Linked DNA regions of Homo sapiens. The protein of the gene in region 2 interacts with the protein of the main gene of each other region in a pairwise test. Each region holds a gene or a part of one and is shown on either strand. Other genes may lie near its edges.

Evidence for each region. The genes of interacting proteins can lie anywhere in the genome.
Region 1: the proteins of RNF20 (region 2) and CHEK2 interact in binary tests that used the Homo sapiens proteins (3 or more experiments, as listed by UniProt).
Region 3: the proteins of RNF20 (region 2) and TACC3 interact in binary tests that used the Homo sapiens proteins (3 or more experiments, as listed by UniProt).

Annotation. Positions count from the first base shown.
Region 1 is NC_000022.11:28,724,821-28,731,820, forward strand, and holds part of CHEK2 (serine/threonine-protein kinase Chk2), read right to left. Parts: intron 5,729-7,000; coding exon of another isoform or gene 5,600-5,728; intron 548-5,599; coding exon 423-547; intron 305-422; coding exon 157-304; intron 104-156; coding exon of another isoform or gene 66-103; intron 1-65. UniProt on the Homo sapiens protein: Serine/threonine-protein kinase which is required for checkpoint-mediated cell cycle arrest, activation of DNA repair and apoptosis in response to the presence of DNA double-strand breaks.
Region 2 is NC_000009.12:101,536,424-101,544,400, reverse strand, and holds part of RNF20 (E3 ubiquitin-protein ligase BRE1A), read right to left. Parts: intron 4,199-7,977; coding exon 4,031-4,198; intron 3,912-4,030; coding exon 3,764-3,911; intron 3,609-3,763; coding exon 3,426-3,608; intron 1-3,425. UniProt on the Homo sapiens protein: Component of the RNF20/40 E3 ubiquitin-protein ligase complex that mediates monoubiquitination of 'Lys-120' of histone H2B (H2BK120ub1).
Region 3 is NC_000004.12:1,724,521-1,731,520, reverse strand, and holds part of TACC3 (transforming acidic coiled-coil-containing protein 3), read right to left. Parts: intron 3,814-7,000; coding exon 2,734-3,813; intron 635-2,733; coding exon 559-634; intron 350-558; coding exon 220-349; intron 1-219. UniProt on the Homo sapiens protein: Plays a role in the microtubule-dependent coupling of the nucleus and the centrosome. Involved in the processes that regulate centrosome-mediated interkinetic nuclear migration (INM) of neural progenitors.

The sequences.
Region 1 (7,000 bases), on a different chromosome or scaffold from region 2:
CTCCCAAAGTGCTGGGATTACAGGTGTGAGCCACCACGCCCAGCAACTTACTCATCTTTACTCACTTAAACCATATTCTGTAAGGACAGGACAAATTTTCCTCCTATGAGAGAGTGGAAAAAAAAAATTCCAGTAACCATAAGATAATAATATTACCTTTATTTCTGCTTAGTGACAGTGCAATTTCAGAATTGTTATTCAAAGGACGGCGTTTTCCTTTCCCTACAAGCTCTGTATTTACAAAGGTTCCATTGCCACTGTGATCTTCTATGTATGCAATGTAAGAGTTTTTAGGACCCACTTCCTAAAATAGAGAACATTTTGTTTCAGACTTTGAATAGCAGAGATTTATAGTGGGAAAATATCTAAAAACAATGACCAAATTACCAGCTCTCCTAGATACATGGGTATTCATTACCTACCCTGAAAATCCGAAAGTGTTTCTTGCTGTATGTTCGGTATTTATCTGTTCTTTTCAGCAGTGGTTCATCAAAGCAATATTCACAGCTTTTGTCCCTCCCAAACCAGTAGTTGTCATTCACACATTCTGTAATATAAAAGCATGCATCAGAGGGCTGTTGAATTTCATGTATCAAACGTTTAAAAATTGCTCATAAATGCTAATTGTAGGAAAATAGCCTAAGAAGGCAATCAGAATTATCAATCTGCTTATCAAGATTTTACAAGATTAAAAATTAGGAGAGAAAAAACAACATTACCAATGAGTTTAACAAATGGCAGTTTATCTATAACCACATGGCCAGGCACAGTGGCTCACACCTGTAATCTCAGCCCTTTGGAAGGCTAAGGCAGGAGGATCACTTGACCCCAGGAGCTCATGACCAGCCTGGGCAACATAGGGGGCACCCATCTCTACCAAGAATTTAAAAATTAGTCTGGGCAACATGGTGAAACCCTATCTCTACAAAAAATAAAAAATCAGCAGGGTGTGGTGGTGGGTCCCTGTGGTCTCAGCTACTCAGGAGGCTGAGGTGGGAGGATCGCTTGAGCCCAGGAGGTCGAGGCTGCAGTGAGCTGAGACTGCGCCACTGCACACTAGCCTGGGCGACAGAGTGAGACCCAGTTTCAAAAAAAAAAAAATGGCCAGGTGTGGTGGCTCATGCCTGTAATCCCAGCACTTTGGGAGGCTGAGACGAATGGATCACGAGGTCAGGAGTTCAAGACCAGCCTGGCCAAGATGGTGAAACCCTGTCTCTACTAAAAAATACAAAAATTAGCTGGGCGTGGTGGCGGGTGCCTGTAATCCCAGTTACTCGGGAAGCTGAGGCAGAGAATTGCTTGAACCTGGGAGGTGGAGGATGCAGTGAGCCAAGATTGCGCCACTGCACTCCAGCCTGGACGACAAAGCAAGACTCTGTCTGAAAAAAAACAAAAAACAATTAACCAGATGTGGTGGTGCATGCCTGTAGTCCAGCTACTCAGGAGGCTGAAGGAGGAGGATCACTTGAGCAAGATAAGCTGATGCTACAATGGGCTGTGATCCTGCCACTGTACTCCAACCTGGGCAACAGAGCAAGACCCTGTCTCAAAAAAATAAATAAACAAATATTTAATATATATTATATATTTATTTTATATTTATTATATATAATATATATAATTTGTATTTATTATACATGTTATATAAATTTATTTTATAAGTTGTCTTAAATATAATTATATATTTATACACAATATAACATATATTATATATTTATAATATAGTAATTATATCTAAATATATAATAATATATAATATATATTATAATCTATTAATATATGTATTTATATACACAAACACACACATACACATACATATATATATAAAACCGTGAAATAACAAATAGTCATTAAAAGTTCTCGAGTAATTTTTAATGACTTGGAAAATTACTTGCAATACAGTAATTTCCTGCTTATTACCTTCCTGAGGTTTTCCATGACACTTAGCATAAAATCTGCACTCTTCCTCATGGCCTACTAGATGCTCAGGGTCTGGCGTCTGCCACCATTCCAGCCCCACCTCATACCCCTCTCCCCTTGCTCATGACACCCAGCACCACTGGCCTCCTTTCACTGCCCCCAAGAATGCTGGGTTCAATCTGCCTTGTGGTCTTAGCACTTCTTCCCCAACTACACAAATGGCTCATTCCACCTTGCCTTTTGTATAACAGATACTATCTACACAACACTATCTGCCTTTAGGACTCTACTATCATCTCCCACTCAGCTTTCTTTCTTTGAGATGGAGTCTCGCTCTGTCGCCCAGGCTGGAGTGCGGTGGCGCGATCTCGGCTCACTGCAACCTCCACCTCCCAGGTTCAAGCGATTCTCCTGCCTCAGCCTCCCGAGTGGCTGGGACTACAGGCACGTGCCACCATGCCCAGCTAATTTTTTGTAATTTTAGTAGAGACGGGGTTTCGCCATGTTAGACAGGATGGTCTCGATCTCCTGAACTTGTGATCCGCCCGCCTCGGCCTCCCAAAGTGCTGGGATAACAGGCATGCGCCACCACACCCGGCCTCCCGCTCAGCTTGTTATATAAACATTACTCACCTGTTATCATAATGTTATCCTGTTTTATATCTTTTTGGGTATGGGCCACGGCTGGAAATTACCTTGCTTATTTGTATATTTTCTCCCCACCTCCCTGCATTAGAACATAACCTCCAGGAGGGCAGCTGGAGACCTCTTGTTTAACAGTACAACTCCAGCACTTGGGATATTGCACATGGCAGGTAATTAAATGTTCATTGCAAGGCAGACTAGGGAAAATACTAGCAACTCCTATCAGGAAAAGGAATAATTTCCCTAATAAATGTTAGGTTCCTATAAATCAGTGAAAACGCTAAACAGTCCAGTAGAAAAATAGGTAAAGGATATGAAAAGATAATTTACAAGAAACAGAAATACAGCTGGCTCAAACATATGAAAGGTGGCCAAGCTAACCCAATATAAGAAAATTCAGAAATCAAAAACACATTAAGATTTCATGTTTTACCTATTAGATTGGCAAAAATCCAAAAGTTTCATATCACCCTGTGCTGGCAAGAGGTATGAAAAAGCGGGTACTCTCATACATTGCCATTGGGAATATAATTTATACACACATTGTCTATAATTGTCTAGGGAGGACAATTTAGCAAGATCTATCAAAATTACATATGGGCTGGGCACGATGGCTCACACCTGTAATCCCAGTACTTTGGGAGGCCAAGGAAGGAGGATCACTTGAGCCTGAAGGTCGAGGCTGCACTAAGCTGTGGTTGCACCACTCACTCCAGAGTGAGAGTGAGACCCTATCTCTAGAAAGAAAAAGAAAATTAACAAATCCAAATTTAGTTAGTTAAAAAGATCAACAAGTTGGCAAACCTTAGACAGACTGAACAAGAAAAAAAGAGACAAGACTCAAATTACTAAAATTAGAATGAGAGAGATAATTACTACTGATCTGACAGAAATAAAAATGATTTAAAAAGAATAATTGAACAATTGTGTGACAGTATTAGATGACATAGGTGAAATGGACAAACTCCTAGAAAGATACAAACTACCAAAACTAACACAAGAAGAAACAGAAAATCTGAATATACCCATAAGAAGTGAAAAGACTGAATGATAATCCTAGCACATTGGGAGGCCAAGGCAGGCGGATTGCTTGACTTCAGGAGATTGAGACCAGCCTGTGCAACATGGCAAAATCCCGTCTCTACTAAAAACAAAACAAAAAAAAATTTAGCCAGGTGTGGTGGCGCGCCCCTGTAGTCCCAGCTACTCTGGAGGCTGAGGCACAAGAATCGTTTGAACCTGTGAGGCAGAGGCTGCAGTGAGCCAATATTGTGCCACTGCACTCCAGCCTGGGTGACAGAGAGAGAGACTCTGTCTCCAAAAAAACAAAACAAAACAAAAGACTGAATGAGTAATCAAAATATCCCTACAAAGAAAAGTGCAGTCCCAGATTGCCTCACTTTAGCTTGAGCAACATAGGGACACCCCATCTCTATCAAAATAAAAAAATTAGCCACACATGGTGGCACATGCCTGAGGTCCCAGCTACTCAGGAGGCTGAGGTAGGAGTTGAGCCTGGGAGGTCAAGCCTGCAGTGAAACGTGATAGTGGGTAACACTCCAGCGTGGGTAAGAGTGAGACCCTGTCTCAAAAAAAAGAAAAAAGAAACACACGGCTGGCTTCATTTTAAATTCTATCAAATATGTAAAGAACTAATACCAATTATTCTCAAACTTTTCGAAGAAATTCGGAACGGAACACTGTCAACTCATCTATGAGGCCAGCATACCAAAACCAGACAGAGACATCACAGTAAAACCACAAACCAATATCCCTTGTGAATATAGATATAAAAATCCTCAACAAAACAGTAGCAAACTAAATCCAGCAACACATAAAAAAGATTACAAATGACCAAACAAGAATTAACCCAGGACGCCAGGCGCGGTGGCTCACATCTGTATTCCCAGCACTTTGGGAGGCCGAGGCGGGCGATCACGAGGTCAGGAGATGGAGACCATCCTGGCTAACACGGTGAAACCCCGTCTCTACTAAAAATACAAAAAATTAGCCGGGCGAGGTGGCGGGCGCCTGTAGTCCCAGCTACTCGGGAGGCTGAGGCAAGAGAATGGCGTGAACCCCAGGGGGCAGACCCTGCAGTGAGCCGAGATCACGCCACTGCACTCCAGCCTGGGCGACAGCGAGACTCCATCTCAAAAAAAAAAAAAAAAAAAAAAAAAGAATTAACCCAGGAAAGCTTGGTTGGTTTAACATCTGAAAACCAATTAATATAATACACGATAACAATAGAATATAGGAAAATAGACACAGAAAAAAATTTTGGCAAAATGCAACACCCTTTTATAACAAAAAATACTCAGAAAACTAGGAATAGGAGTAAACTCCTTCAACCTAATAAAGAGCTTTTATTTTATTTATTATCTATTTATTTTTAATTTAGAGGCAAAGTCTTGCTCTGTGGCCTGCAATCATAGCTTGCTGCAGTCTCCAACTCGTGGCCTTAAGCACTTCTCCTGCCATAGGCTCCCAAAGCACTGAGATTATAGGGTGAAAGAGTCAGAGCAACCAGCCAGAAAGCATTTTTTTTTTCTTTTGAGTCAGAGTCTCACTCTATCACCAACTAGCTGGAACTACAGGCTCCTGCCACCACGCCCGGCTAATTTTGTTTTTGTATTTTTAGTAGAGACGGGGTTTCACCATGTTGGCCAGGATGGTCTCGATCTCCTGACCTTGTGATCCGCCCACCTCAGCCTCCCAAAGTGCTTGGATTACAGGCATGAGCCACTGCACCCACCCCAGAAAGAACTTTTATGAAACATCCACAGCTTAGTCTTCAGATATCAGAGGAGAAAGGAGAGAGGAAGAGAGAAGAGGAGAGAGAAGAGGAAAGAAAAGAGGAGAGGAGAGGAGGGGAGGGGAGGAAAGGAAAGCGGAAGGGAAAGGAAAGGAAAGCGGAAGGGAAAGGAAAGCAGAAGGGAAAGGAAAGGAAAGGAAAAAAGAAAGGGGAAAGGGGAAAGGAAAAGGAAAAGGGAAAGAGAAAGGGAAAGGGAAAGACCCACAGCTAACATCATACTTAGACTGCAAACTGGCCGGGGATGGTGCCTCACACCTCTTATCCCAGCACTTTGGGAGGCTGAGGCAGGAGGATCAGATGACAGCAGGAGTTCAAGATCAGATTGGGTAACATGGCCAGACTCTGTCTCTACAAAAAATAAAAATAAAAAAGTTAGGCCAGCCACGGTGGCTCATGCCTGTAATCCCAGCACTTTGGGAGGCCGAGGCGGGTGGATCACCCGAGGGCAGGAGTTCGAGACCAGCCTGGCCAACATGGTGAAACCCCATCTCTACTAAAAATACAAAAATTAGCCAGGCATGGTGGCATAAGCATGTAATCCCAGCTACTTGGGAGGCTGAGGCAGGAGAATCGCTTGAAACCGGGAGGAGGAGGTTGCGGTGAGCCGAGATCATGACATTGCAATCCAGCCTGGTGACAGAGCAAGGCTCCGTCTCAATAAATAAATAAATAAAACTTAAAATGAATAAAGGACCTTAATTAAACATAAGAGCTAAAACTAGGCCAGGCACTGTGGCTTATGCCTGTAATCCTAACACTTTGGGAAGCCAAGATGGATGTATTGCTTGAGCTCAGGAGTTTGAGACCAGACTGCAACATGATGAAACCCCATCTCCACCAAGAATACAAAAAGTTAGCTGGGAGTGGTGGTGCACATCTGTGGTCCCAGCTACTCAGGAGGCTGAAGTGGGAGAATTGCTTGAGCCTGGGAGGCAGAGGCTGAAGTGAGCTGAGATTGTGCCACTGCACTCCAGCCTGGATGACAGAGTGAGATCCTGTCTCAAAATAAACAAACAAACAAACAAACAAAAATTTAAAAAAAGGAATTAAAACTGTAAAATTTTAAAAGAAAACATAGGTATAAATAATTAACAAATAATAATAATAAACAGCCTCGGCCAGACGTGGTGGCTCGCGCCTGTAATCCCACCACTTTGGGAGGCCAAGGCGGGCAGATCACCTGAGGTCAGGAGTTTGAAACCAGCCTGGCCAATATGATGACAACCCGTCCCTACTAAAAAATACAGAACTTAGCCACGGTGGTGGGCACCTGTAATCCCAGCTACTCAGGTGGCTGAGGCAGGAGAATGGCTTCAACCCAGGAGATTGAGGTTGCAGTGAGCCAAGATCGTACCACTGCACTCCAGCCTGGGTGACAGAGTGAGACTCCGTCTCAAATAATAATAATAATAATAATGATAAACAGTCTCTATTTATTCAGCACCTACTTTATGCTGGTCATCCTATCAGGATCTTTGTTTACTTGTCTTTTTTTGTTTTTCCTTTTTGTGGAGAATGGGGTCTCGCTATATTGCCCAGCAGGTCTCAAACTCCTGGGTTCAAGCTATCCTCCCACCTCTGCTGCTCTAAGAGCTGGGATTACAGTTGAGAGCCCCTGCA
Region 2 (7,977 bases):
TGTATCCTTGGCCAGGTATAGCAGCTCACGCTGTAATCCTAGCACCTTGGGAAGCCAAGGCAGGCCGATCACTTGAGGCCAGGAGTTCAAGACCAGCCTGAATAACAAAGCAAGAATCATATGCTCTTATCACATATTCTCATATCATATATTCTGAAATACTATGTTAGGGGCACTTCTGAAGCTTAAAAACCAAAATGTACACTACTATTTACAAAGCAGGTAGGTAAATCCATAGAACTTATTACACCAAGTTCGTATGTTTAAAATTAGAGTTGCAAATACTATAGCTGAAATCCAAATGTAATTAAATGAAACCAGATACTCTCAGGATATATACCACCCATCAAAGAGAGTTATCAGGAAGAAAAATATGCTTTCTCATATCACCTCTTGGCATTACTCTTAGTATCAATACAGAACAGGTTGGTCATATGGTGGTTTTCATGGTTTTCAAGCTAGGCTTGCCCATCAGAATCACTTGTGGAACTTTTAAAATAGACATTTCCCTAGGACCTATCTCATACCTACTTAATAAGAACCTCCATGGGCAAAGCCAAAAATAAGAATATGCTCAGAAAACTCCCAAGGTTATTCTGATTCATAACCTGAGTTAAGAAGTAGAGACTGAATTTTAGTCCTCTCAATATCCTAAGCACTGAGGACAGGGCTAGAATACAATAAAATTCAATAAATGTTTAGTGAATTTATAAACAAGCCCATAAATGCAATTCTTTTGAATCAAAGACCAAACAAACAGACAGTACTGCCCTGGCAGGTTAGACAGTGCCGCCCTGGCAGGGTTAGACAGTGCCGCTCTGGCAGGTTAGACAGTGCCGCCCTGGCAGGTTAGACAGTTCCGCTCTGGCAGGGTTGGACAGTACTGCAGTGGCAGGGTTAGACAGTGCCACCCTGGCAGGGTTAGACAGTGCTGCCTTGGCAGGTTAGACAGTGCCGCCCTGGCAGAGTTAGACAGTGCCGCTCTGGCAGGTTAGACAGTGCCGCTCTGGCAGGTTAGACAGTGCCGCCCTGGCAGGGTTAGACAGTGCCGCCCTGGAAGGGTTAGACAGTGCCGCCCTGGAAGGGTTAGACAGTGCCGCCCTGGCACGGTTAGACAGTACTGCCGTGGCAGGTTAGACAGTGCCGCTCTGGCAGGGTTAGATGAATTTATAGACCTTACTCTATAAGGCCTATACTTGCTCTAGAAGGCCTTACCTTACTCTAGAAGGCCTATCATATCATAGGGGATTTTGTAAAACACAACACAACTCCAAACCTCCAAATAATGAATTACCCTAAATATAAAAGACTGTATAGTGTTATTGAGGAATGGCGTGGTAGAAATTCCACAGGGAATGGGGAAGTAGAAACTACTGTATTGATGATGTCCTAGGAATTTGAGGAATGTCAATTTTCAGTCTAAGTCAGGGGGATGAACTTTCAAACAAGTTACAACTGATGCTATAATTCATACTTTATACATCTTTATCTCTTAGAAAGTTCAGCTTACCAATGGCAATTGCCTTTTGTGTTACAAATAATGGCATGGCTATTTGTAATGTTTCTACTTTTTAACTTAAACCCGACCTTAAAATGCATGCCATTAAATAGTAATTTTAAAGTCGTTTGATATACTACTCATTTTATTCCCTTTTTAAATAAAACAATTGTTTCACTTGATATTCATTTATGAAATCAAGTTTAACATAGTCTATGCACATGGCATATTAATTACCATATTACTAAAATTTAACAATACCTTCTAACTATTCAATTAGAGCCCAAGGAGAAAGAAGCATATGTGCACACACAAAGCACCATTATTTTATATTAGGTGACAGGGAGGTTCACATCCATTCATTCCCCATTGACTAAACATCTGCTAGATGCCAGATGCAGTGCTAGAAACTAGAGAAACAAAGAAGAGTGAGCCAAACTACTGAACCAAGACACAGTTTAGCTGGGGACATGCAAGTAGATGTAAGATATTAATACAAAAGTACAAAAGTCTGAGAGGACATAAAACACATTGTTTAGAATGGTTATCTTTTGAGAAATGAGAATGGGGAAACTTTTGTAGTCTACTTATTTGTATTTCTGACTTGTATATTTTTAAACAAGTATCTGTTTTCCTTATAATAAAATACAGAAATGCATAATCTAATGGAAAAGCAAAAGAAACCCGTGACCAAATTTTCACAGGCCTTCTACAAGCTGCTTAATTCTGTTGACAACTTAGCCCAATTACCCTTAAAAGCAAAATTACAGAATAATACAATTCTTATATGCTCATCCAATGGTTCAACCTCCATTACATTCAACTTATTTCCTTCAGAAATGAAAGGTTAAACATCTTAATGATAAGCAGGGAAATTAAGATATTACAACTAGACCATGATTATTATTGAAAACATGAAATCAAGGCATTTTTTTTGCATTTGAGCAAGGTATTTATGCCACAAATGACTAAAGATGTAACCTAGCTACACAAATACTTTACTGTACAAATTTAAATTTTTGCATTAACTCTGAGTAACACAATTATCCCAAATAATTATTTTATTTCAAATACTCTTTCATCCATAGAATATTTTCTAATAATCCTTTTAACCATACAGATCATCTGTCAACTCTAAAACCTGCACCAACTCTTTTTAAAAACATTAGCGATAATGAAAAATAAGTTAAGTAAAAATTAACTTTTTCAAGTCAAAATTCTGTAACTAATAATTAAATAATATAGTTGTTATTTAAAATAAAGTATTATCACTATAAATCAATAGCCTACATACACGATAAACAGATCCAGATATTAGAGCTGTTTATTAAATAATAAAGTTAATTCTGCTATTTACAAAACTGTCATTAATAGAGTATATCAGTATAGAGCTGATAAACTCTTTCCTCAGCTTATTAAAGGACTGTCATGTGGCTCAAAATGAGAAGCACTGATAAAAGATTAATATGCCATAATGAAGACATTACCAGTAACACTGAAGGTTAGAATTTCTAAAAATTTAATTAAAATATATAGTCCAGGCACAGTGGCTCATGCCTGTAATCCTAACACTTTGGGAGGCCAGAAGAGAGGATCTCTTGAGGCCAAGTTTGAGACCAGCCTGGGCAACATAGCAAGACTTCCTCTCTACAAAAAGGTTAAAATATTAGCCAGGTGTGGTAGTACGTGCCTATAGTCCTAGCTATTCGGAAGCTGAGGCAGAAAGATTGCTTGAGTTCGAGGATTCAATGGGCTATGATGGTGCCACTGTGTTCCAGCCTGGGTGACACAGTGAAACCTTATCTCTTAAAAAGTAAATAATAAATAAATAAAAATAAATATGTAAGCTTGCAAACTACAAATTAGCATGCAAAAATGAATTCTTATTCCTCCTCCACTACTCCCGGCCTCCAGGGTCTTGCCTCACCTCCACTGTTTAGCTTCCGGGATAAGAGCTCCACTTTTTCTTGCAATTTATCATAAACAGTCACAATCTGGGACACGGCTCGGCGGGAAGACTCCACACGTTCCTGCAGCTGAGACTCCATCTCTTCACTGGAACTGCTGGCCAAAGTAGCAAGGAAAGAGAAAGCTGGCTCTTGCCCTTCCCCTGAGGACACAGGGGGAAAAAAAGAAGCCCCCCAAAATTATAAACTGGAAATAACAAAATCCATTTTTTTTCCCTCAAATGGAAAGCCTCAAAGCAGAGCTCTACTTTAAAAACCCAGATAGCATGCAGTGATAGAATCCATCACGAACACTTGCCTCTCTCTCGGTCATCTTTACGCTCCTGATTGCTATCAGAGTCTGGTTCTGGTTCAGGCACAACAAGGGCTTTTCGTTCTGTGAGTAGGTCTCCCAAGCCCTGCTCCAGATCATAACGTTTAAGGATGATACGGATGTTTTCATCAAACTGGAGAAGGGTAGGTACAATTATGAAGAAACAAAGGACACAACTTTGGAAATGAAGAGAACAGTAAGGAGAACTAAATTGGTCAAATAAAAATCTGAACAAATAAACAAGTTAGCTACCTGACTCCAGTATCGGTTGACAATCAATAGTGAGGCATCATCAGTGGCCTGTCGTCGTTCCAGTTTTTCAATGTGCTCACGAAGTTCATCTTCAATGGCCTGCCGCTGATCCAACATTTCTGCCAGCTTGCGATTTTTGGTTTGCAGTGTTCTAATGTCTAGTTCCTCCTGCCCAGTAAACCAATCGTATTAGTCTCCACAAAGAAATAAGAAAAATGAGCCGTTAAACTCAACAAGGTCACAATTATTCATTAGTTATTTTCTATGAATAAAGCTATTGACTTTTAAAAAATCTTACAAGTAATTAAGAAGTAGAAGCAGAAGAGATAAACAACAGGTATATGATGGTGTGAGGAAAGAATAATACACACAAATACACCAGAACCTCAACCCATCTCGCTGTTCTAGTCACATAAACATCTACAAAGTAATGCTGCTTTAAGGCCACCATCCAGCTAGATCACCCTCGACTCCAATCAACACTGTCTTCTATCTCGTAAGCACCATCCTTCCTTCATTAAAGACTTCAGCACCTGGGTCCCTGTCTATCCCAGTTCCTGCCAATATATCTGGTGACTTCACCATACATGTGGACAAACCATCTAATCCTCTAGCATCTAGGCTGTCAGTTTTTCCAGTTCCTTCACTCCAAACATTATCTCCTCCACTGTGCTTCAGCCATGCACTTCAAAAGACACATCTCAGACTTTTGTCATTATCTGGAACTGTACCACATCTGAAATCTTATATTCCAACTTCCCATTCCCTGAAAAACACCACGTCTTTCCAGGTATCTCATGCCCTTAACCCAATATACCAATCCCTTTACCTCATCAAGATCTCCAGAATGTTGAATTCTTTTCTTTCTCCTTTTCGGTCTCCTTCTATCTCTGCTACCTTCCATATCTTAATCATATGCTATATAGTACATTCCTTCAAACACCTGCCTAACAGCCTCCTTGGTTCTCTGCCCTTAATCCTTTTATTCTATCTCTGTCAACAAACCCCAATCTGAATTAATCCAGTTATCTGGCTATTCCATTCCTGTACCCAGTATGCTGAGACTTCTAGAGAAGTTCATCAAACCACCGAAACCGGTGCCTTTACAAAATGAATTCTTAGCCTAAACAGATTTTATAATTTGTCTAGAAATATTTCTTTATCAAGTGAGCTATTTCCCATTCTCCAGCAAGGCAACATCAACCTCTACCAAACCCTGCCCCCTTTTACATCATACAAAACAGATGGCTTTACTTCCTATTTTAATGAGAAAATAGAAGCCATCAGATGGAAAACAATTCCCCATCTCTTTGACCCATTAACACAATTATGCACACATTCTTAAAACCTCAGCTTGTGCTCAGGATCCTGTTCTCTTCTGTCTCTACAAAACCCTCACTCCATTAGTAATTTCACATCCCTCTCAATATTTTTCTCTCTCCAGCTCCTTCCCTAGGACAAACCAGGGAGGGGTTGGTGGGAGGTGGGATTGGAGGATATAACAAGCAAAGAACCAGCATGTGGAAAAATAGTCTTACTTTTCTGAGGAATTAATGAAATCATTATTTTAAAGTGACAATTGTTTATTACACCACCAATTTTTGTTTCATTTTTCTCTTTTCCACTTTAATTAAAACATTCCTAATATGCCAAAGTAGTCAACAGTTTTCCCACTGTACCAGTTTATTAACACTATTAATAAACTATATCCTCAAACTCTTCTCTGAACATTGCCTTTCCCTTCTTGCTCTAACTGAAACTTGGATGAGAAACTGTTTCCCTGCAGGCTTCTCTAGTGGTGGCTGTTTCTCTTCCACACCCCTTGAAGCCAGAGAGGGATGAATATCCTCCTTATTTTCCATTGCCACTTCCAGGCCATTACCCCACCTTCCTCCCTAAAACCTCCTACCTCTGCAGCTCATGCCATTAGCCTATACCACCTGCCGCCATGCTCTGTTGAATTCATCTGTAAATGCCCACGTCGTTTCCTCACATTTCACAAAGACTTAGCACCTACCTTATTATCACTCTCCAATACTTTTCCTGTCATCATTCTTAATGATTTCAATACCCATACAGATAACCTTTCCTATACTTGAATCATCAAGTCACTGACCTCCTCTTCACCAATGATCTTGTCTTCTACCTCCTTCAGCCACCAACTCCCACATTTAGTCTTACTTGTACCTACATGTCCTCTATAAGCTCAATTTCAAACACCTCATTCTTCACAACTACCACTATTTTTCCAGCTCACTCTCTCCAGTTTCCTTACTCCAAAAATTCTTTAACCTCTCCAGGATCTACAATCCATTGGTCCTATACCTTTCACTTCTCTCACCTCCTTCTTTACTGAACTTAAATTCCATGATCAGTCATTATATAGTCATCTACTTTACAGCGATACTCCTTTATAAAGCATTGTCTCTACTCTCTTTTTCCTAATTCCTCTCCCCTCATATTCTCTTAAGCTCACTGAAAACAGGGTGCCATCCCCACTATTTCACCAACAAAGGTGTTTTGGTATCTCCAGTGAACTATTATTAAATATAACACCTCAGTCCTCCCTTTATTCCCCTTGTTCCAACTGAAACCTGAATGAGAACACATCAGCAGCACCTAATCAGCTCCTTCTTGAAATACTTTCTTCATTGAGCTTCTGGGAACCCATTCTCTCTTCCTATCCTCTTACCTCATTGGTCCCTCTTTGTTTGTATCTTTGATTAGTCCTTTCTCATTCCTTGACATGAAAATATTGTAGTGCCCCAGCAGACCTCTTTATGCTTATTCATTAAAGGAGTCTGTAGTCTCATAGATGTAAACACAACTTACAAAATGACGATTCCCAAATATACAGCTTTAGCCCAGACCTCTCTCTAGTATCCAGCTTATTAACTACCTATCCATTCAGAGGTCAAATAAGTATCTCAAACTTATATGTCCCAAACCAAACCAAACTCAATTCATCCTCCATGACTCCCAAAAATCTGCTCCTCTCATACACTTCTCTAGCTCAGTAAGTAAAAATTCCATTACTTTCAAAATCCTGGGATGATCCTCCCTCCTATCTTTCATGTGAGTTATCCAATCCATCAGCAGATCTTATCAATGCTACCTCCACAGTGGTCCAAGCCACCATGATTTCTCATTAAGATTACTGCAAAGGCCTCCTATAGCAAAAACTCTGTGCTAAGTCCTGTCAGCCTGCCAGATTTCAGCACAGCTGTGGTGGACAGCTCCATTTACACTGCCATTGTTCCCACTTCAAGCACACTTTGGAGACTCAGTTTTTCTGTCCCGCAATCACAGCTGGCTCCTAACAGCAATCTCAAAATGCACAGGAGGGACTGCTTTCAATGGCAACCTTCAACCAATTGGAGCGGGGATCAGTGGATACATGCCTCAGATCCCCACCTTTGGAGAGATGCAGTTATAGCGAAAGAGAGTAAGAAGAAGAAAAGAAAAAAGTCTGCTAGCTGGACTCTTGTTTATAATCCTTGCTTTTCTATAGTCTCCAAACACAAGTCAGAGCATGTTAGTCTCCTACTTAAGACTATCCACTAACTCCTCATTGCCTCTGGATAAAGTCCACACTGGGGTGTGTGCTATGTGCTTCCCATAAGTATGTGCTTATCCCTGTCAACAGCACATACCCCACTCTAAACAGTCTATTCCCTTGTCAGTGCTACCCTACAAACTAAAGTCTAGGGGCTGTCTTCAGTGTAAAGGATAGTGTCTGGCAAATAACAAATACTCAACAAATATTTATATATTGAGTGAATAAATGCCTTTGGAATGCATGATGCAAGGCAGTGCTAAAACAAAAATCACTTCCTGCCAGCAATATTAAGTACCAGAACCTCAGGCAGCCTCAGAAATGACACTTCATCAACAACTCACTATGAATGTTCCTATTATTCTGACTCAAAAAAAAAAATCAGCCTCTC
Region 3 (7,000 bases), on a different chromosome or scaffold from region 2:
TTTCTAGAAGTCTTTTATGTTAAAGGTATGAGCCCTGCTCTCCTAACACTGACTAAGTTTTGACAAACCACAAGTTTGTGCATGAGTCATTCAAAGTCAAGGGACCCAACTGCCTGCGAAATGACCACCTGCCGATGATGCAGGTGTCTCGAGCTGCCCAAGTGCTCACGGGATCCCCTCCGGGCAGACTGTGTGTGACGTCTGTGCCAGGCAACGTACCCTCAGCGGGGTCTCTGAAGCTCTCCTCTTTCAGCTCCAAGGCAGGCTGCCCCTGCTGATGGGTGGGCACTGGCTCACTGCCTGGACAGCTTGTGGGAAGCGAGGTGCTGGCAGAGTTCAAGGCTCTCTCCTGGAGGAAAGGGCAGAGTCACCCTGTGCAGTGCAGTCAAGGTACTTGGGGTGTGGCTTTGCCTCCCCACAACCTTGTTGAAGTAGACTTGGGGGAGAGGGAGCGGGACATCCCACCCCGTCACCCAAGGCTGCTGGGGGCTTCCACTGCCTGCTACTCTTCTACACGACCAGGCCAGGAGCACAGGTACCCACACAAGCACCCCTTACCTTGCTCTCTGCTGTTGGGGTCTCGGCTGCCAACTGCACCACAGGCGTGTCCTCCGCTGAGGCTGAATGCAGCTGCCTGGGGAGACAGAGTCAGCAGAGGCCCATGCCCCCCACCCCATAACCCCGGCGTCCCCTGCTCCAGCACTGAGCTGCCATCGCCTTTCCCTGCACTGCTGTGCCGGCCACGTGAACATTCAGCTAGAGCGTGCCAGGCATGGGGCTGTCCCAAGCGACCTGGCCACAAAACTGCCTCACCAACCTCACCCAGCAGGAAAACACGCGCCTTGCCTGCCAGCTCTGGGAGAAGCAGGCTGGGAGCTCTAAAGTCAGCACGATGCAGCCAAAGGGAATCACAAGGATGAGTACATCCCTTTTACTGTGAAACTGACAAAAGGCTTCAAATGTGGAGGCTGGGGCAGGTGTGGGCAGCAAGCCACCCAGGGGCCAAGGCAAGACACCAAGGGCACAAGCTGTTCCAGTATCATAAATATACAGAATAAGAATAGTTATACTAGAAATAGATTATAGATATGATTATATATGAATATCGTTAATCATTAGTTTGTAGCTTTACTCTTTATTCTAATATTATAATAATCTTTGTTCTACAATAATAACCTAGGAAACGCCGGGTGCGGTGGCTCACGCATGTAATCCCAGCACTTTGGGAGGCCGAGGCGGTCGGATCACGAGGTCATATCTAGACCATCCTGGCTAACACGGTGAAACCCCGTCTCTACTAAAAAATACAAAAAAATTAGCCGGGCATGGTGGCGGGTGCCTGCAGTCCCAGCTACTCGGGAGGCTGAGGCAGGAGAATGGTGTGAACCCGGGAGGCAGAACTCGCAGTGAGGCGAGATCACGCCACTGCGCTCCAGCCTGGGTGACAGAGCGAGACTCTGTCTCAAAAAACAAACAAACAAACAAATAACCCTAGGAAAAACCAGGCCATATAGAGATAGGAGGTGAAGGCACACGGTGAGAAAGTGACCGGAAGAGGTGTGTGAGCCCTCTGTCACGCCCGGACAGGGCCACTGGAGGGCTCCCTGGTCTAGCGGTAACACCAGCACTTGGGAAGGCACCCGTTACCTAGCTTGGTCTAGCGGTAGCACCAGTGCCTGGGAAGGCACCCGTTAATTAGACTGGGAAAGGGAGTCTCCCTTTCCCTGGGGGAGTTAGAGAAGACTCTGCTCCACCATCTCTTGTGGAATCAGTCAGGCCCGCCCGCAGCCATCCAGAGGCCTGTGTCCCTGTGATGCTGTGCTTCAGCAGTCACGCTCCTGGTCCACTTTCATGATCCGCTCTGTACACCTGGCTCTGTCTTCTAGATAGCAGTAGCAGAATTAGTCAAAGTGCTAAAGTCTTTGAAATACATAGAAAAAATAATGGCGTCAGCTGTCCTCTCTCTCCGCCTTGGCTGCCAAACAGGGAAGGGCCCAGTGGACACGTGACTTGCGTGACCTGACCTATCATTGGAGATGGCTCACACTCCTTAACCTGTCCCCTTGCCTTGTATCCAATAAGTAACAGCGCAGCCAGACATTCGGGGCCATTACCGATCTCCGTGCCTTGGTGGTAGTGGTCCCCCGGGCCCAGCTGTCTTTTCTTCTGTCTTTTTCTTGTGTCTTTATTTGTACAATCTCTTGTCTATGCACACGAGGAGAAAAAACCCACAGACCCAGTAGGGCTGGACCCTACAGGCAGGACAATCTCCCACTGAGCAACTCTAGGAGATGTAGCCTAAGACCATTCAGCCAGGAGGCAGCAGACCCACGGCCAAGACCCCAGCAAGCAGCGGACGCCACCCAGGCAGTAACAGGCTTTGCCTGGCTTTTGGAGTTACACACCCAAGTCAAGTTCACCTGAGGAGGAACATGACTGGGGGACAGGGTCCTGCCCAGGGTTGGTTGCATTTGGCTTCTGGCCTGAGCCCGCCCTTATTGGATCCCTCCTTAGGCCAGGAGCACTAAAGAGATGCATGGCAGCCAAGGCAAGGCCAAGCACCCTCAGCTGGGAGCCACCTGAGCCCTGTTTTTATCCAGAGGCCCCTCCTCAGGCAGAACCTACCCGGCCTCAAAGGAGTATCTGATGACACTTCTGGCCTCGGGTCCTGGACCACATACACTGCAGGGCAGCTGCCCCACGCCACGCTCCCCATCCCATCCTCACACTTACTGGCTCAGACAGGGACCTGGCTCCTCCGTGGCAGGCCCAGCATGCAACTGTTCAGCCGCTGGCTGGCCCAGCCTGGTCTCAGGGCTTTCTGGGGGCTGGGCCTCACTGCAACCAGACTTGGTGTCACCTCCGAACGGGATGAAGTTTGGGTCATCCATTTTGTCCCAGTCGAGGTGGTAAGAGCCCCGAGAAGCTGGCATGGGGGGGTCCTCTCCTGCTCCGCTCCTACCGTCGTCCTCCTCCACCTCCTGCGGGGCCTTTTGCTGCCTCACTGCTGCTTTCCTCAAGGGAGGCTTGAGGCCGGACCTCTCTCCCAGTCTCCTTGGTGGGGGTGCCCTTTTGCTGGTGGCGCCATCAGATACATCAAATTCTAGTTTTACAGGTCCGCTCCTCGAGGAGCTGGCCATTTGGCCTGCAGCCACTTCTTCCTGAGGACTCAGGGTCATGGCCCTGCCAGCCACCAGGTGGTTGGTTGGGGCTGTGCTCTCAGGAGCAGAGGTGTGTGCACAGGTAAGGGTCTGAGTGCCATCTGCTGGCACGGGGGTGCCCACACCCGCAGGGCAGCCCAGGGCTTCGCCAGGCAGACCCTGCAGGGGTGCTCCTCCGCAGGCTTCCTTAGGGATTGCACCAGGAGGCGAAGTGGCCACTGCTGCGGGAGCACAGACCCCACCGTGCCGGCATTCCTCCTCGGCTCCGTGCGGAGTCTCCGCTTTGCATTCTTCCTCGGCTCCGTGCGGAGTCTCCGCTTTGTGCTGGGACTCTGTCCTGCAAGGGTCTTCTAGGGTCTCAGAGGCGGGTGTCACTCTTCTGTCTAAGGAATAGGAACTAAGGTTTTCCTCCACGGCTTGCTCAGGGCTGCCAGACACTTTTCCTGGAGACACCATTTGGTTCTCAGAACTTCCTGGGCTCTGGGAAGAGCTTGAGCAGTCCAGGTCAGCCAGGGCACCTGGGCCAGACTCGCTGGAGCTGCCACTCCCAAAGGCTGGGCTTGCATCCCCCAGGAGGTCGGTGTCAGCCTCCACTGGTTTCTGTAGAATTCCATGAGTAGTTTTGGCATCCACTTCCTTGATGAGCTGTTGGCTTTTAAAAGAGACTTAATCAACGTGAAGCAGCGAGTACCTGGTGAGGTTAGGGGCCTCAGCATTCATTCTCAACATAGGTTTAACATTCTCACACCAGAAGCAGGGCTGAGTCACCCTTGGCACGGCTTCCCGTTCTCCACCCCCCACCTCAGTTCCTCAATGTAGTTCCTTCCTGTCCTCCCAGGGACCAGCTCCCGGTGGAACGGCTGGACACAACCACGTGACTTCCTCGCTGACCCCGCCCTCATGCTTCTTGGGGTTCCAAGTTACAGGGGTGCCTCTGGGCTGCTTGCCTGTTTAATTGTGCTCATCACGCGCTTTGCCAGGTGCTGGACCCAGACTCCTCCAGCAGCCTCTGCCACCCAAACAGCACTCGTCATCATGCACGAGGTCTGCCCCCAGGCCCACAGCATGCACACAGCACAGGCTGCTGCCTGGGGGGTCAGATGTGGGACAGCACACCCAAATGCCTCAAGCTGATGCCAGAGAAAGAAGCCTGGAGGCATCTCTCCCACCTGGTAGACTGGGCTCCTCAATTTCCCACCACTTCCTTTATTTTTATGTTTTTTTTTTTTGAGACGGATTTTTGCTCTGTTGCCAAGGCTGGAGTGTAATGGCATGATCTCGGCTCACTGCAACCTCCACCTCTGGGGTTCAAGCGATTCTCCTGCCTCAGCCTCCCAAGTAGCTGGGATTACAGGTGCCCGCCACCATGTCTGGCTAATTTTGTTTTGTATTTTTAGTAGAGACAGGTTTTCATCATGTTGGTCAGCCTGGTCTCAAACTCCTGACCTTAGGTGATCCACCCGCCTCGGCCTCCCAGTGCTAGGATTACAGGCAGGAGCCACCGCACCCGGCATCCACCATTTCCTGTAAAAAATCCATTCGAGCACCTGCCCACCAGCATACAGTGACCCCACCCTACTCCCCGATAGACAAGGCTGGCTGCCACCCTCTCAGCTGTCCCCTGCCTATGCTCCAGGGCCTGGCCCCAGTCCTCTGTGTGGCCTCCAGCCTGCTGTGGGCCTGTAAGTCATATAATCATTATTTCCGCCTGTGTTTCTCCTAATCACTGAAGGGTGTGCACCACTTAATGACCCTGAATTCTAACATTAAGGGACCTGACAGCATTCCGATAACACTTTAATCTGCGTGAAAACATCAGCTACAAGCAAAACAAGAAAGCTCAGTCAACATTGTCCTGTGGCTTAAACCTCACCCGAGGACATGCCCAACAGATCAGTCCTGGGGACTTGCAGGCCCCAGGATGGCCAGCAGGGGGCGTGGTAAACAAAGGTTTTCTGCATGAATCTGCTTTCCCCTTCAAGTCGGGGACTGGCAGTGCTGTGGCCAGGGACAGTCAAAGCCTTCACTGAAGGGCAGGGCTGAGGTGCAGGATGCCACCTGCAGGCACAGAAGGACCTGAGTGGCCTCTGCGACGCCTCCCTGGGATGGCGCCTGCTACAGTGGAGTGGCACAGGTGCAGAGAACACCTTCCCAGGGACCCACCTGTCTCTGGGGCACTCGCTGCTCACAATGTGGGACTGCATGGCGCAGGGCCCCTGACAGAAGAGGCGGCTGTTGGGATGGTTGGGGCTGGACTACAACACAGAGGGCACAAACACTGTTTCACCTGTTCCCCAGCCTTCAGGTCCCTGAGAAGACGCAGGGTCATGTGCCAGTGCCTCAGATAAGGGGCCCATGTCACCTGCCCTTCTCTTCCAACTCTAAGTTTGAAGATGTCAAAACTGAGAAACTGAGGGTGAGGGACCTGTCAGACTGCTCACAACTCCTCTGCTGCCCAGCTGCCACCTTGGGGCGGCACTGCCTTCCCAGGCGGCCACTCGGCTGTCCTCTGAATGACACGTGGGCAGCTGCACGCAGCGGCTGCTCTTGGTCTCATCCCACTGACGTGGGAGCACCACAGTGACCACCACCTGGGCCTCAGCAGAGTTCCAGAAAGGAGATGACAGCCACGAGTCCAAGCCACAAGCTCAGAGTCACTCTGGCTGGAGCCCCTCAGGGCCAACCTCTCAAGCCCCTCCCAGCTCCTCTACACCCTCTGCCCTATGGAGGCTGCTGGGTGATCCTGGAGGCATAGGGGAGAGGCAGGGGATCTGTGGCTCTGGGACGGATCACACCCATGGCAGCTGGGAGGCGACTTCTCTGCTGCTGGGTCTCCCTTCCTTCTTGGGGTCGTTGTAAACCAATGTTTGATTCATTCTCGCTTCGTTTGACCAAATTTCAAAAGGGGCAAAAAACAAAGTTGAAAAGTAGCAAGCAGACATGGGAAGAACTGCAAATTCAGGCTGGAGGGGTAGAGGGGAGACGGACCCAGGGCCCAGAGAAGGATGTAGGAAATGCTGCCTGCACTTACTGGTGACATTTTATCTCAGGGGGTGAGAAGCATCAGTGGTATTCTGTTCCTTATGCTTTTCTCTGCACATCTAAAATCTGCTTAAAAGTTTTGGGCCAGCCGGGCGTGGTGGCTCATGCCTGTAATCCCAGCACTTTGGGAGGCCGAGGCCGGCAGATCACCTGAGGTCGGGAGTTCAAGACCAGCCTGACCAACACGGATAAACCCCATATTTACTAAAAATACACAAAATTAGCCAGGTGTGGTGGCGCATGCCTGTAATCCCAGCTACTCGGAGGCTGAGGCAGGAGAATCGTTTGAACCTGGGAGGCGGAGGTTGTGGTGAGTTAAGATCGCACCATTGCACTCCAGCCTGAGCAACAAGAATGAAACTCCGTGTAAAAAAAAAAAAAAAAAAAAAATTGGCCGGGCATGGTGGCTCACAGTTGTAGTCCCAGCTACTAAGGAGGCCAAGGTGGAGGACTGCTTGAGCCCAGGAGGTTGAGGCTGCAGTGAGCTGTGATGGCACCACGGCACTCCAGCCTGGGTGACAGAGCGAAACTCTGTCTCAAAACAACAGCAACAACAGTTACATCAGCAAAAAACCAACAGAAAATCATGCCTCTGGGGTCCCTTCCCACCCTGGATGCAGATGAGGTGTTCCTGGGTGCCCAGACAGATTAGTTCAGCCGCAGAGTAAAGAGCTGCCACCAGGATCCTCCCTTTCTAGGCAAAGACAGACACCGCCTCGCCATCCACTTGCAGTTAAGAATCAGGTCGGCTAAAAAATTAGCCGGGAGTGGTGGCGGCGGGCGCCTGTAGCCCCAGC